Linked DNA regions of Homo sapiens. The protein of the gene in region 1 purifies or fractionates together with the protein of each later gene. This does not show direct contact. Each region holds a gene or a part of one and is shown in the gene's direction. Other genes may lie near its edges.

Region 1 (3,657 bases):
TGCTTTAAGAAACATGAAATATTAACTTGGTGCCATTTTAAATCTTATATAACTTAGATCTTATTGGAGTTCCTTTATGAAAACTGTAACCTAAAATGGATATACCACATGTTAAGAAACCCCATTTACATCAGTTTAGGGTTTTCATTTTGTGTTTGACGTGACACTCTCCCACATGAAACAAGTGTGCGAATCATTTTTGTGTTTATTAGATACATGGCGGACCAACTATGTAAATCCATCTAGGAATGTGAAGGGACTAAATATCTTTTTAGAAGGTAAATCGGAGCTTGTGATAGCAATAAGGTATTGGGATAAAATTTCAGGCGGAGAGCACCACCTGGTGGTAATAAGGAGAATGTGAGCCTTCTGTTGCAGTATTTGCGATAGTAAATAAGTGATATCTTTGTCAAAAAATTACATTCTTATTTGTAATAATCATGAATTCAAATTTCTAAAACTAATTTTCTGCCACACAATTCTAGCATTCCTTCATTAAAACTGCTGTCAAAACCTTCAGGCTGGCCAGGCACAATGGCTCACACCTGTAATCCCAGCACTTCGGGAGGCCAAAGTGGGAGAATTGTTTGAGGACAGGAGTTCAAGACCAGCCTGGGCAACATAGTGAGACCTAGTCTCTACAGTAAATAAAAATATTAGCCAGGCAGGGTGGCACACGCCTATAGTCCCAGCTACTCCAGAGGCTGAGGCAGGAGGATCGCTTGAGCCCAGGAAGACGAGGCTGCAGTGAGCTATGATCGTGCCACAGCACTCCCTGTCCGGGTGACAGCGAGACTGCCTCTAAAAATAAAAATTAAAAAATTAAAAACCTGCTAGCTAACCAAATAATTGTCTGTGTCCTAAAGAACTGAAGTCTTGTGCTCGTTGTCGTTCCAAGCGTAGGCCCTGTTTATCTCTGTAGAAAATCAGTGTCTTTTCACCTCTTTATTGCATCCTCTAATTTTTATATCACACTTATTTTATGTGGTAAATTTCTGCCAAGTGGGATAATGGAGAAGGAAGTATTTCTGATTTTTTAGTAAGTTTTTGGCAGGTTTCATATAAGTCATTTTTCTTTCCTGGGTAAAAATTATGAAGAGGAGTATGATAATTTTTCAGAGTGATTATTAGGATGAGTAACACTGGCAGGGGATGGGAGATTCTGTAACAGTTTTGAATTAAAATTCATATTTGAGATTTCTTTTTTGTTGCTATAAGCATCTTTATTATTTGGCAATCTTGAAACAAGATACTTCAGTAGTTGAGTAAAGTAGGAACATCAGCCTAAGGGGAAAAGATCCTATTAAGTTAATGCGAATGCATATTTTATAGGCCTGGGGTTGGGGGGAAGATAAACACAGTTTCAATTACAGGTTGAGCCATGGACAAGCATGCCATATCTATCTTTTTTCCTGGTAGGAAAACCGAATACAGGCCACCACTAAAAAGTGGTGAATACAGGCCCATCACCACTAAAACGTCTCTTGGGAGAGGACTGTTTATGTAAGGTGCTCGGCCAAATAGAATATGACATGGCTTTGCACTCCTGGGATTTTTCTTAATATAAGTAACAGTCTTATAACATCTGCGTTTCAACACTCATATTAGCAGACACTGTAAAAAAATTGTACCATGCACAAATGCCCACTTATTATATAATTCTTTTTATATTAAATGCCCAGAATTGGCAATCCATAGAGATAAAAAGTAGATTCATAGTTGCCAGGGGCTGGGAGGAAGAGCTGGGAGAAAATGGGTAGTGCCTGCTAATGGGTTTGTGATTTCTTTTGGACTAATGAAAATGTTCTGGAATTAGATAGTAGTAATCATTGCACAACTGTGTGAATATATTAAAAACCACTGTATTGTACACTTAAATTTAAACTAAAGAAAAGCTGACACATGGAGGAATGAGCAGAGTCAATAAACAGGTGGTTATGGTAAAAATTATTTCACTTATGTTCTAGCAGAAATGTCTGATAATCTAATATTGTAGTTTAGGCCTTGAATGTTGTAATTTGTACTTTATTGCCCTGTTCCTGACTTTCACAGGGCCGCGATGGGCCTCTTGGAACATTGGTGTGTTCATCTGCATTCGATGTGCTGGAATCCACAGGAATCTGGGGGTGCACATATCCAGGGTAAAGTCAGTTAACCTCGACCAGTGGACTCAAGAACAGATTCAGGTACTTAGCCCAAGAGTGAGTCAGCTGCTTCCATATATCTATGTAAAAGGAATTCCAGATGAATTTCAGTCAAACCTGGCACAAAGGTGAAGATAAAGGAAAATTTAGTTGTTAAACACTTAACATCAGATTCTTGTACCCTAACAGAAATTTTTATTCTTTCTATTTAAGATACAAGTTATTCTACCTATATTTTACCTCCTTAAAAACAGAAATAGTCTACGGTCTAGGATTCCATGGGCCCACGAAAGTATTAAGAGGGATCTTTGGGTGATTTTCTAAGACTCTTAGCATTTGCAGGTCTAAAATTTATAGTTTCAAATATTCACTTTTGGTCGGGCACGGTGGCTCATGCCTGTAATCCCAGCACTTTGTAAGGCCGAGGTGGGTGGATCTCTTGAGTCTAGGAGTTCAAGACCAGCCTGGGCAACAGAGTGAGACACCTGTCTCTACAAAATAAAGAATTAAAAAATTAGCTGGGCCTGGTGGTACGTACCTGTAATCCCAGCAGTTTGGGAAGCTGAGGTGGGAGGATTGCTTGAGCCCAGAAGTTGAAGCTGCGGTTAGTCATGATCATGCCATTGCACTCTAGCCTGAGCAATAGAGTGAGACCCTGTCTCAAAAAAATAAATAAATAAAAATTCACTTTTTAAAAAAACCTCCAAATCATAGACTTATGGGAAAATTTTATTACTAAAATGCATACATGAATCTTTTTTTTAAGACAGAGAAAATATTTTAATGGTACATAATATTAAAATGTATCCATTTTTGTAAACTCATCATTTCTGATATTTTTAGACACATACAAATGTGGAATTAGATAACATTTAAAATTTCAAAAATTTTAAATAAATTTAAACATAATTAACCTTAAAAGTATATTAAATAGGACAATGTGTATATTAGATTTATTGTTATCATCTTTAAAAAGCTGTAACAGCTGGAATGCATACATGAATCTTGCATGCTGTTAGCTTGGTGGGCTTGGAGTGAGACTCCTAAGTTAATGAGTCTGGCTGGCCTAAGAGCTGTACCTTGATATAGCTTCATTATTTTTTATTCTCTTCCTACATTGAAACGCTTTAATTTCAATTTTTTCTTTCTTGGGAGTAAAAGGGAAGCCCCCCGCCCCCCAAATCCAGTTGCTAAAGTTGGTAATGGAAATCAGAGGTTACGCTTAACCAGAAAATGGCTTTAGAAATTGCTTTAGATTGTATTTATAGATGTATTAAAGGTCTAAAAAGGTGAGTTACATTTTTCAGTTACACTTCACTCTGTTTTATGAAGGAAATTATATGCCATGGAGATAGTCGGGAATTTGGAGATTTAAAAAGCTCTTGGGATTTATCCCTCACAAGTGTTAAGGAGTCTACTTAAAAGCCTAATGGGAAACACATTTATTGGAATTGATTAATAGTATAAACTCAGAATGATAACACTGATCATTGCCTGCCAAGTAGACATTTTA
Region 2 (3,657 bases), on another chromosome or scaffold:
ATAACTCTTCATTGATTCAGGTGCTATTAAGTATGTTATTGTAAGAGACAAAATTATTTGTTTCAGTAAACCCTTGGAAAAATATTTTAGAGAATTACATTGAATTATTTCAGATAAATAAGCATAGGTAAGTAGGTAAAAGGAAGTCGGTTTTTCTAAAACACAAAACAAAGCAAGTTGTCTTACAGTTTCATTGAGTACCTCCTAAATGAAGTAAATTTGAAAATTAAGAGAAGACATCTTTTTTCATTTTTAACAACATATATTGAAGCATTGAAAAACATTTAGGTGGAAAAGGTTTGTTGGAGAGTAAGGGAAAGAACAGATCATCTGCTCAGATGATTCCTTGTAGTCCTGATTTGTCTTTTCAGGTATTTGTTAGGTGGTGGTAGGTTAATAGCAATTCCATCAGTCTTCATGGTGATTATTTTCTAGCCAGAACACTGTAAGTGTGCATGGTTAAATATTACATCAATTGGGGAGATACTGGTCAAAGAGTACAGTTTCAGTTAGGAGGAATAAGTTCTGGAGATCTGCACAGCATGTGACTACAGTTAATAATAATGTACTGTATATTTGACAATTGCTAAGAGAAAGGAAGTAAATAAGAAGATCCTACAACAACTGCTGAGTCTTTTTAGTTAGAAAGCAGGCTTTAATGATATCAGACTTAAGTTTGCAAGACTCTTTTTCTAAGCTTCCTCAAGTCTCTTCCTTAAATGTTGATATTTCAGGTTATCAGAAGTTCCTATATTCTTTTTTTTTTTTTTTTATTTTTGAGATGGAGTCTCGCTCTGTTGCCCAGGCTGGAGTGCAGTGGTGCGATCTCGGCTCACTGCAAGCTTCGCCTCCCGGGTTCATTCCATTCTCCTGCCTCAGCTTCCTGAGTAGCTGGGACTACAGGCGCCCGCCACCATGCCTGGCTAATTTTTTGTGTTTTTAATAGAGACGGGGTTTCACCGTGTTAGCCAGGATGGTCTCGATCTCCTGACCTCGTGATCCGCCCACCTCGGCCTCCCAAAGTGCTGGGATTACAGGCGTGAGCCACCGTACCCAGCCCAGAAGTTCCTATATTCTAGAAAATAGTCTATAATATAATAATATACATTTTATTTAAAAACAAAACTAAACTAAGATTGTTTTTCCAAGAATAGGGATGGATTTCTGTTTTCTCTCACATGATCCACTGGGTTTTGTAACCTGTTGGAATAATGGTATATAAATAGCTGTGGAACAGAACAAAAAGGAATGAAGTAATGTCTGTCATGGAAATTACACGTTGATGACTGTAGCCATATGAGTGCATGGATTAACCACTGAATTGAGAAGTACTCTTAGATTAGCATATTATGTCCTTTGAGGGGGAAACATTTTTTTTTTGCTCTCTTTCTGACTTCATGGGAGGTAGAAAGTGATGAAAGACGAGAGGGACCAGGAATCTTCCTGGTTGACAATTATAGTAGTAATGGATTGTTGAAATTGCTGTTTACTTACTGGTTCTTTATGAAATAAAGAAGTGATGGAGGTTCCTTTTATGTCACTAAATTATTAACCATACCTCAGATAATATGCCATACATTGTCTTTACACAGTGAGGTCATTGTGTACTGATGGTTTGCAATCAATCAGTTGTGCTAAAGACCAAGTTTAGTATCAGTGGGTGTGTTTGCAAACCATTCTGGCTTTGTGGTTAATGTTTATGAAAATGAAAATAGTCTTAACCACTTTTAACAGCTTCTTTTTTTTTTTTTTTTTTTTTTTTTGAGACGGAGTTTCGCCCTTGTTGCCCAGGCTGGAGTGCAATGGTGCCATCTCGGCTCACCACAAGCCCTGCCTCCCGGGTTCAAGTGATTTCTCCTGCCTCAGCCTCCTGAGTAGCTGGTATTACAGGCATGCTCCACCAGGCCCGCCTAATTTTGTGTTTTTGTTTGTTTGTTTGTTTTTGTTATTGAGACAGAGTCTTGCTCTGTCGCCCAGGCTGGAGTGCAGTGGTGCAATCTCGGCTCACTGCAAGCTCCGCCTCCTAGGTTCACACCATTCTCCTGCCTCAGCCCCCTGAGTAGCTGGGACTACAGGCGCCTGCCACCATGCCCGGCTATTTTTTTTTTTTTTGTATTTTTAGTAGAAATGGGTTTCACCGTGTTAGCCAGGATGGTCTCGATCTCCTGACCTCATGATCCGCCCGCCTTGGCCTCCCAAAGTGCTGGGATTACAGGTGTGAGCCACCATACCCGGCCTTGGTTTTGTATTTTTAATAGAGACGTGGTTTCTCCATGTTGGTCAGACTGGTCGCGAACTCCCAACCTCAGGTGATCTGCCCACCTTGGCTTCCCAAAGTACTGACTGGGATTACAGGTGTGAGCCACTGTGCCTGGCCTTTAACAGCTTTTTTTTTTTTTTTTTTTGAGACGGAGTCTTGCTCTGTCGCCCAGGCTGGACTGCAGTGGCGTGATCTCGGCTCACTGCAACCTCTGCCTCCCGGGTTCATGCCATTCTCCTGCCTCAGCCTCCCGAGCAGCTGGGACTACAGGCGCCCGCCACCATGACCAGCTAATTTTTTGTATTTTTAGTAGAGACGGGGTTTCACTGTGTTAGCCAGGATGGTCTCGATCTCCTGACCTCGTGATCCACCCACCTCAGCCTCCCAAAGTCCTGGGATTACAGGCATGAGCCACCGTGCCTGGCCTAACAGCCTCTTAAGTGAATGCGAGAATTTAGTGCATACTTGCTGTATTTGAAGGGTTATTTGCTAGTTTTCCTGTACAGTTCCTCCCCTCTCCGCCCCTAATACACATATAGTATCAAGTAATTACTCCAACTAAGAGAATAAAACAGGTCCCTGAAAATCAGAACACTTAAATTTGATGCAGAAAGATTTTTTGTTTGGTCTGCTTTGATGTAGTTTGCCTTTGCAAAAGTGGAGGTGGAGGAATTGGAAGGAGGTCCTGGAAGCCATTTTCGTGACTTAGAATATAATACATGTACATTTTAATTATGTAATTTTCTCTTTAATATTTAAAATGTCCTATTTTCTAAACAAATTGGTTGGTTGGTCAAATAAATGATTCATTTGTTTTAAACAGGTCAAGGTGAAGATGTTCTTAAAGGGTCCCAGATTACGTATGTTACAGGTGTAGAAGGGGACGACGTTGTTTCTACACAAGTAGCCACAGTAACCCAATCTGGACTGAGTCAACAAGTTACACTCATATCCCAGGATGGGACTCAGCATGTAAGTATCCACCAAAAGCCAAACAAATTAAATCTTTCTGTGAACCTGGGCTTGAAAGGCAGGCTGGGTCCCCATTGAGGAAAGCTTTGAAATATCAGGGCACAAAGTTTGGAAACCCTGAGGTTTTTCAGTAGTCTGCTTACAGAGACTACGTGCAGAGAGATTAGGAGAGAGAGAAGGTTTGTGACTGTAGAATCCGAATGGTATTCTTGGTGTAGTTCAAAGGTGAGATGATAAAGGTCAGCCACAGAGAGGCTCAGGGCTTCAAAAGTACTGGATCCATGTGAAACACAGATCAGAAAAGGGATAGGATTTGGTGGCTGATTAGATGCAGGAGGTGAGATTGAGAAAACAGAGATTTGGCTGAGGTGATCAGCATATGATGGCACCATTAAGAGATCAGGAATCATGAGAGTTCACTCAAC
Region 3 (3,657 bases), on another chromosome or scaffold:
AATATGGGATAGAAAACATCACTCTGTTTAAAGTACAGTGATGTGTTTGCTAGGCAGAGTCATTTTGAAACTTCTGTTTGGAAGCTATATCAAAAACTGAAGAATGGCATGGTCATCTAAAAAGTGATAGCTAATTTGTACTCAAGAGATAGATGTGATTTTCTCAAATCTAATTCTTTTAATCAGAAGGAACAGATAATACCAGGTAAAATGGAACTTAACAGTTTGTTTTGTTACCATACTTTTAAAAGTTATATATGCCAAACCATTCTTCTTGTTTTAGTGATCCAGTCTATTTTGGTAAACTTATTTTGTAATTTTCCCCATAAAAACATACTAGTTACTTCCACATTTTATTAATAAAAAAATACCATCCGTTGGGCTATATTGGAGCAAATGACCATATTGGTATGCTTTGTACTTTGACAGAAAGAAAAAAAATCATTAGAAAAAGTAATATGTCTCCATGAAATGTAAAATAAACTTGAGTGTACTATGGAAGAGCAGGACATGAGTGGAAATGAATGAGATTGTATAATATTCATAATACCTTGGTGTAGAGTTACATAAATTTCAAGTAACCTGATTTCACATGCTGTTGGTTTTTTGTTTTTTTTTTTTATTTCTCAGTGAGGATGGTCTTATCACAGCAGGTTCTTTTTATCAGCTGACACATTCATTCTGAAATGTAGCTTGATGTAGCTTTATAAACATAACCACATATTGTCCTAAATAATTTTCTCAATTTTAAAATGACCTATGCTGTATTATATTAAATTTAATATCCATCTTTTAGCTACACAGAAAAAAGATGTTGATAATCTAACATATTTTAACTTAAAGATTTGTATGTACACATTTTCAACCAGTGGCTGCATTAATTTCACTTATTGTAAAAGCAACCCTTGAATTATGGTCTGTTTATTTCAAAGATACTACAACATACATTATTGCCAGTGCATGTATGTAAATAGTTATGGGGATTGAAATATTCTGTTTCTTTTGAAGAAAGGGAAGTACAAAATTTTCTTTCCATGATTAGTTAGCTACATATTTTGTACCAACTGAAAGCAATTTGGGACAGTTGTAATCTTTATTCACATAGTTCTAAGAATATATTTCTATAAAATTAATGGAAAGCTTGATTTTTTTAAGTTTTTGTGTATGAAGAAGTATTGTTTTCCATGCTGAAGAAATGTCTATACGAAAGATACGTTTCTTTCTAAAACAAAACAATTTTGTTTTTACGCCATTTTTACATACGCTTATGACACAGAATATATCTGAACCTAGCTTCAGAATCTGAAAATAATAAATGATATAATTTATTCTATTAATAAAGGCTAGTAGAACAAAGCAGTTTTTCTGCATTGAACTTTTGCATGCATTTTTTATTGAATTCCTTAACTCTTACTTACTTCTAGCCAAATGAATATTGTATCAATCTGTTTCTCCAGAAATTAGTAGTCCTGATTTGATACATAAAACTGTTGCATCTAATGAAGTGGAAGTACACAGGCATAATATTCAGACATGGGGCGCTTTGTGTCATAAGAAGTAACCACATTTATGATGTAAATAAAGTTTGCTTAAAATATGTCAGTTTGGTAATGCAGTATTTTACACTGATGAATCAACCTTATTTCCTTAAGTGAGTGGGGTATTATGTATGACTATCTGGAAGTGGTATTGAAAGGCTGAAGGACATGTAACTATTAAAATGAAGATGCATTACAATGCAACAGTGTAGCACCCTTCTCTTCCAACAGCTATTTCTTTTGAATTTCCCATACAACTTTTTGTTTTTTCCCCTATGTTGGGAGCCAAATCTTAAGTTCCTTGAAGGGAAAAGGAAAAGATAGGTGAGCTAGGAAAGTATTCAGTCATTTAGTATCAGTATAACTACATACACCTTACATCTTAGGCAATCTTGGCTTTGAGTTTAAATTCAAATGTGGGGAATTTCCATGTAATATACATTCAAGAAAAGAATTTTTACTAATATATTGCTCTGACTTTGTATTTTTAATAGTTTATTGAAACCATTTCGGCATCTAGCTTTTAAATTGAGACAGTAAAGTTTTATCCTATTTATTGGAATATTATAGAAATAATAGAATATTATAGAAATAGGAGTATGTCAAGTTACTCTCAAGTGGAAGTGTTTTATGCAATCTAAAATAGCTTATTTTAAAGAAATGTAGTAATGACCTGTCAGTTGTTCAAATGCAGCACCATAACATTTGGTATAAAACCAAACCAAATATTCAAAAGTTGAACATCGGCTTGGGGATTTTATGTGGGATGAATTTAAATGTTCTGTTTCCTCTGCTGTTTTATTTATTTATTTTTGAGATGGAGTCTTGCTCTGTTGCCCAGGCTGGAGTGTGGTGGCACGATCTCGGCTCACTACAACCTCTGCCTCCCAGGTTCAAGCAATTCTCCTGCCACAGCCTCCCAAGTAGCTAGGACTACAGGCGCGTGCCACAATTCCTCCCTAATTTTTGTATTTTCAGTAGAGACGGGGTTTCACTACGTTGGCCAGGCTGGTCTTGAACTCCGGACCTCGTGATCCGCCGCCTCAGCCTCCTTTCAAAGTGCTGGGATTACAGGCATGAGCCACTGCGCCCAGCCTCTGCTGTTTTATTTTAATGAATAAATAATGAAACCTGATGGAACTCAGCTGTGCCTCATGAGAGGCAGCAATGGGACGATGGAGGTCTACCATAGGTAGTTTGGTTAGGTGATACAGAGCAAAATGTAATTTTAGAACAAATGGTGTGTGTTGAACACACACACACAAATTTGAGTACATATGCAAATTTGATAATAGAAACAAAGCATTTCTTAGTCTGGTAGATATGAGGTCAATAGAAGAGTGTAGAGAGGATGGTAACAGCTAAGCCAACCACAAACTGAACATATATCTCCCATAATCTAATTCCTCAATGCATCTAGTCTCCTTAACAAAATTATGTGAATATTTTAATTTTTCAAACAAGCCCTGGAAAATAAGCATGTCAAAATGATGAGAGAAAAACAAAAAGGAGAGAGAAAAAATCAACATCTGAACCTCCTAGGGGAGAAAAGTGTATAAAATTAAGCATTGTTATTCTCTCCCCATGTTGTCTCTTAACTAATTCTTAAATGGATGCATTTTAGAAGATTGAGAATATGTTGGACATTGAATATGAAAACCTAGATTCTAAAAGTGAGGTTGGATGCTGATATGAACAGTTAGCTTGCATGTAGATCTGGCACTGTAAACATGCTAAATCAATGTTGGTGGGTGATTTCCTACATTCACTATAATATCTGTGTTTTGGATTAGGTAAAGATTTAAGCTGGTAGTTGTTGTAAAATTGCTGAGGCTCATGATGAAGGACTAAAACACTAGCCAATCAATTGTATTTACTGAGTGACCCCAGTACATCATTCTTTGCACTTGACATTGGGAAAGTTTAAAGAGTTGAATATCTGGTACCTGCTCTCCAGCACCTCACAAGCTACCAGGGAGGACAGAATAGACACAAGGCAAGAAATAAGCACAGAATATTTACAAAGTAGTGCACCCACGAAAGCAGCACACCAGCTGATGTCCTGGGTTTTAGTGACTGAGAAGGCACTAAGATATATGTAGGATTAAACACTTTGCCA

What was found.
Region 2: the proteins of SMAP2 (region 1) and ZNF143 purify together in Homo sapiens (affinity purification with mass spectrometry, with the first as the bait; one large-scale study listed by BioGRID). This does not show direct contact.
Region 3: the proteins of SMAP2 (region 1) and RBMS1 purify together in Homo sapiens (affinity purification with mass spectrometry, with the first as the bait; one large-scale study listed by BioGRID). This does not show direct contact.

What each region holds. Positions count from the first base shown.
Region 1 is NC_000001.11:40,404,684-40,408,340, forward strand, and holds part of SMAP2 (stromal membrane-associated protein 2), read left to right. Parts: intron 1-2,052; coding exon 2,053-2,186; intron 2,187-3,657.
Region 2 is NC_000011.10:9,509,365-9,513,021, forward strand, and holds part of ZNF143 (zinc finger protein 143), read left to right. Parts: intron 1-3,083; coding exon 3,084-3,232; intron 3,233-3,657. UniProt on the Homo sapiens protein: Transcriptional activator. Activates the gene for selenocysteine tRNA (tRNAsec). Binds to the SPH motif of small nuclear RNA (snRNA) gene promoters. Participates in efficient U6 RNA polymerase III transcription via its interaction with CHD8.
Region 3 is NC_000002.12:160,487,271-160,490,927, reverse strand, and holds part of RBMS1 (RNA-binding motif, single-stranded-interacting protein 1), read left to right. Parts: intron 1-3,657.